Regions from separate parts of the Homo sapiens genome. Here region 2 is linked to region 1. Evidence: fine-mapped expression QTL. Tissue or cell type: sun-exposed skin. Region 1 holds a variant in brackets; the other region holds the start of a gene. All regions are shown on one strand. Distances are from middle to middle.

What was found. PIP is the estimated chance that this variant, and not a neighbour inherited with it, causes the effect.
Region 2: it holds the start of SH3KBP1, and the variant in region 1 is fine-mapped to the expression of SH3KBP1 in sun-exposed skin (GTEx, PIP above 0.99).

The regions. Positions count from the first base shown.
Region 1 is chrX:20,190,583-20,193,338 of GRCh38, forward strand. All of the region lies in intron 7 of RPS6KA3 (ribosomal protein S6 kinase A3), which reads right to left. Among named protein-coding and RNA genes, the nearest start is that of EIF1AX, 50 kb to the left of the region's middle. The variant T/C (reference allele first, on the strand shown) is at 1,281.
Region 2 is chrX:19,886,123-19,888,622 of GRCh38, forward strand. It overlaps SH3KBP1 (SH3 domain containing kinase binding protein 1), which reads right to left and starts at 1,478. Exons shown (of 18, transcript NM_031892.3): 1 at 1,185-1,478. The coding sequence starts at 1,188. RefSeq lists silencers at 880-1,019, 1,500-1,569, 1,630-1,929.

The sequences.
Region 1 (2,756 bases):
GTTTAATCTTATGTTTATAGTAATTTTTCTAAGGACTATATGCTTGAATATTCATTCTCACCAATAATTATATTTTGTGTCACAATAGTTATAAGTTGGGAAAATAATCAGGAAAACTCAGCAGTTATTTGGGGAATAAAAACAAAACCATATGAAACTTATCCAAAAACAATAAAAAAAACATAAAATATAAAAGCATAACAATTTCTAAATGATCACTTAGAAGAGTTCCAGATGAGCATTTCCTCTCTTCCTGTGTTAATACAGAATTTAAATTTTGTACTAACTTTTTTTTTTTTTTATTATGCTTTAGGTTCTAGGATACATGTGCAGAACGTGCAGGTTTGTTACATAGGTATACACATGCCATGGTGGTTTGCTGCGCCCATTAACCCGTCATTTACATTAGGCATTTCTCCTAATGCTATCCCTCCCCTAGCCCCCTAACTCCTGACAGGCCCCGGTGTGTGGTGTTCCCCTCCCTGTGTCCATGTGTTCTCATTGTTCAACTCCCACTTATGAGTGAGAACATGCAGTGTTTGATTTTCTGTTCCTGTGTTAGTTCGCTGAGAATGATGGTTTCCAGCTTCATCCATGTCCCTGCAAAGGACATGAACTCAGCATTTTTTATAGCTGCACAGTATTCCATGGTGTATATGTGCCACATTTTCTTTATCCAGTCTATCATTGATGGGCATTTGGGTTGGTTCCAAGTCTTTGCTATTGTGAATAGTGCTGCAATAAACATACGTGTGCATGTGTCTTTATAGTAGAATGATTTATAATCGTTTGGGTATATACATGGTAATGGGATTGCTGGGTCAAACGGTATTTCTGGTTCTAGATCCTTGAGGAATCGCCACACTGTCTTCCACAATGGTTGAACTAATTAACACTCCCACCAACAGTGTAAAAGCGGTACTATTTCTCCACATCCTCTCCAGCATCTGTTGTTTCCTGACTTTTTAATGATCGCCATTCTAACTGGCGTGAGATGGTATCTCATTGTGGTTTTGATTTGCATTTCTCTAATGACCAGGGATGATGAGCTTTTCTTTCATATGTTTGTTTGCCACATAAATGTCTTCTTTTGAGAAGTGTCTGTTCATATCCGAGAGAAATATTCAAAATTCTTAATATGATGGTTGTACAACTCTGTGAATATACTAAAAATCAATGAATTATACACTTCTTTTTTTTTGAGACTGAGTTTCGCTCTTGTCACCCAGGCTGGAGTGCAATGGCGCGATCTCAGCTCACTGCAACCTCCACCTCCCGGA[T/C]TCAAGCGATTCTCCTGCCTCAGTCTCCCAGTAGCTGGGATTACAGGTGTGCCCCTCCACACCTGGCCAAGTTTTGTATTTTTAATAGAGACGGGGTTTCACCATGTTGGCCGGGCTGGTCTCAAACTCCTGACCTCAAGTGATCTGCCTGCCTTGGTCTCCCGAAGTGCTGGGATTACAGGTGTGATCCACTGCACCCAGGCAATGACTTGTATAATATATGAATTACAACTCAATAAAGCTGTTTAAAAATATTCCTGGTAGAGCAAGGCTCGTGCTTATATGCTTATAAAAGGAAAAAAAAAACTTTCTTACTCAGTGGTAGATAAACATCAACAAATTAAAACGGAAGTGTGTACAATTTAAATAATATCCGATTCTTGATGACTGTTACTATCAAACCTGTGGGAAATTTGCTCAGTTCACACTTAAAATTTGAAATTACATGGAGAAGAAAATTTTCAATAAATGGTATTTGGGGGAAAGAAAGGATTAGCTTTATACCATCCCTCCTGCCAAAAAATTTCTAAACAATGGAGCTAAAAGAAAAAAAAAAAGAAACTATAAAATTAGAAGGAAAATATCTGATCATAGAACTGGGGAAAGCCTAAGAATGAGAGTCAGAATAAATCACAAAAGAAGATTGGTAGATCTGCCTGAAGAAAAAAACGTGCATAAATTAAACAACATAAAGTTAAAATTGAAAGACTGGAAAAAAATGTAAATTTTCTTTTTTTTTTTTTTTTTTTTTTTTTGAGACAGGGTCTCACTCTGTTGCCCAGGCTGGAGATGCAACAGAGCGATCTTGGCTCACTGCAGCCTCGATGCCCCAAGCTCAAGCAATCCTCCTGCCTCAGCCTCCTGAGTAGTCGGGACTACAGGCATGTGCCACCATGCCCAGCTAATTTTTTGTAGAGATGGGGTTTTGCCATGTTGCCCACACTGGTCTACAACTCCTGGGCTCATGCAATTCAGCCTCCCAAAGTGCTCGGGTTACATGTGTGAGCCACCATGCCAGACCAAAAATAACATTCTGAAAGAAAAATGAACAAAGGCCATGAGCAGAAAATTCACACAAAAATACAAATTGCCAATGAATGCAGATTTCAACCTCATTAAAAAATCAAAGAATGGGATGGCTGTGGTGGCTCACGCCTGTAATCCCAATACTTTGGGAGGCTGAGGCAGGTGGATCACCTGAGGTCAGGAGTTCGAGACCAGCCTGGCCAACATGGTGAAACCCTGTTTCTACTAAAAATACAAAAATTAGCTGGGTGTGTTGGCAGGCGCCCGTAATCCCAGCTACTCGGGAGGCTAAGGCAGGAGAATTGCTTGAATCTGGGAGGTGGAGATTGCAGTGAGCTGAGATTGCGCCACTGCACTCCAGCCTGGGCAACAAGAGCAAAACTCCATCTTTAAAAAAAAAAAATCAAAGAATGCACACAAAAACAGTATTTTTTGATTAACTGAGATTTT
Region 2 (2,500 bases), 300 kb before region 1:
AACAGATCACCACTACTTAGAAAAGGAAAACCTTTTTTGGCAAATGACCACAAATGGGATTTTAACTTTGCCTGTCAACAACGGACTGGGTTAAACCTCCTCTTTTCCAATCCTTCAGGCTTTCTGAACATCCTGACTAGTGTACTGGAATCCTATTACCTGAACACAGAAAGGTCTCACTTTATTATGATTTATTATTATCTGCAGCCTTCCTATGCCTGGCCTAGGAACATCCAAAAATAATCTGCCAGAGGCTGAAAAACAGAAGCTGGCTGTCAGCAAGAACATTACCTGGGTAGACCAAACATTTAATAGCCCAAGTAATCATAAGTGCCTTGCCAATAAAGTGGCAGCTTCTCTGGGCAGCAAGGTGGTTCCAATGCTCCGGGGTCTAAATCAAATGGGACCCAGGGGGTTCAAAGGTTAGTTGGCTACTTCGAACTGATGTTTACTCAGTAAATCAAAGACCGGATCACCATTTCCAGGTCCCAGACCCTGAAGACTTAAAGGACAGTATGGGAAGTGGCCTTTTAGCATCACGGAGCAGAGAGCTCGCCAGGCTGGAGGAAGGCAGCAGCGAAAGGGTCGGGGCCGGGAGGAAGGGGGGCGCAAGGAGAGGAGCGTCAGGTGCTCTGGACCCCGGGACTGCGAGCCAGACCAGGAACTGGGGCGTTTCCCGCCCCACCCCCCAACCCCTGTCAACCCCCAGCAAAGGCAACCCAGCCCCCTCCAAGACCCCGAGGTTCCAGCTTCCCCCGAGACAGGACCAGGAAGACACCAGCAGCCCCGCGCAGGGCCGGAGCCCACCAGGTCCGGGTGCCCGTGTCCGCAGCGCAGAGGAGGGCGCGCTCGGGTGCAAAAATGGCCAAGACAAAACTCTCCCCGCCCACCCGAAAAACCAACCACACCCCCTGCATCCCTCAGCCCGAGCCGCCCGGGGCCAGCCCCCGTGATCGTCTGCTCAGGCCCCCGCGGGTTCCCGTCGGCGCCGCGCGCGGGCTCGGCGGGCACACGGGCGCAAGTGGGAGTGAATGGGGGTGCGCGAGGCAGGCGAGGGCGCCCACCGCGGTGTCCCCCGTCCGGACCCTGCCCCCGGGGCGCCCTCCCGGGCTCCGCGGTTCTGGGACTGGCGCGCCGCCCTCAAGGCTGAAGTGGACGCCCGGACGCGGGCGGCCCCCACTCACCCATTGGCGTCGAGCCGGGCCGGGCCGCCGAGGCAGCGTGAAAGTTGGCGGAGGCGGGCGTGGGGGTTGGGGCGCCGGGATCGGGGCGCTGGGATCCAGGCGCGAGGGTCCGGACGCGGCGGCGGCTGGGCCGGCTTCTTCCTCAGTGGCGGCGGCGGCGGCTCAGCGCCGCCCGCTGCTGCCTCTGCTGCTGCTGCCGCTGCTGCCCCGGGGCGACTCCTGCTGCTGCTGTTGCATCGCGGCCCAATGCGCCCGGCTGCGCCGGGTTTCCTGCTCCCCGCGAGTGGAAATTGCGAAAAAAAAAAAAAAAAAAAAAAAAAAAAAAAAAAAAAAAAAAAAAAAAACAGCGCCGCCCAGCCCAGCGCCCGGCAGCCGCGGCCGCGCCGCCCGCTCTCCCCTCCTCCTCAGCGCTGCCGCGAGGCTCCTGCAGCTCCGCCTGCCGGGGACGCGCGGCCGCCGGGCGGGGGCGGGGCCGGAGAGGGGCGGGGCCGGGGCCGGGGCCGCGTCGGGGCAGGCGCCGGGGGCGTCCCTGCGGCTGAGGGGCTTGGGCGCCCTCCTCACCGCCCGCGCCAGAGGCACCCCTCTCCGCGCGGCTGCCACCCACCCGCAGCGGCTGGGCTGACGCCCCGGGAAGTGCCGCGAGACTCCTCGAGACCGGAGGAGAGGGGCTTCTTGGGGGAGGGGCGTGGGAGTGCAGGGGCACGTGGAGAAGGAGGAGAAGGGGGCTGAGCGGGAGGGGGCGACAAGAGGTGGAGGACGGGCTGGGGATGGAGACCAGGGCAGGCCCGGGGCCAAACGCCTGACCAGGGTGATGGCAGGTGGCCCTGGGGCATCGAGGCAATCTGGAATGAGTTTTCCCGGGGGGCTGTTGGAGGGGAAGGAAAAGGGTCCCTTGGAAGGGAGAGAAACGCGGCGTCCCTTCGGTGGGGCGTGGGAACGCAGGCAGGCCAGGTGCGAGTTCCGCACAGAGGAGGCGGTGGCACTGACGTGGGGAAAAACGGGCGAAGGACGCAGCGGGGCCGAGGGGACGCATCGCCTCGCTGGGACCCGCCTAAGCCCCGCCCCAGTGCCTGGGCCAGGTGCGGTTCGGGTGTTCAGGAATGTTCCCGAGCTCTGACGTTCCCAGGAATCCGCTGAGATGAGGGCTGGCTCCCTCCCTAGCAGGCATTATTGTGCCTTACTGACTCCCAGACCTGGACGGCCGACCCTTGAGTGGGCGCTAAAATGTTAACAGGGAATCCGTGGGCATTCGTGGGCAATTCAGAAGCTCCGTTTTGGGTCCATTCACCACCACACCTTTCGCCATAGATACTCTG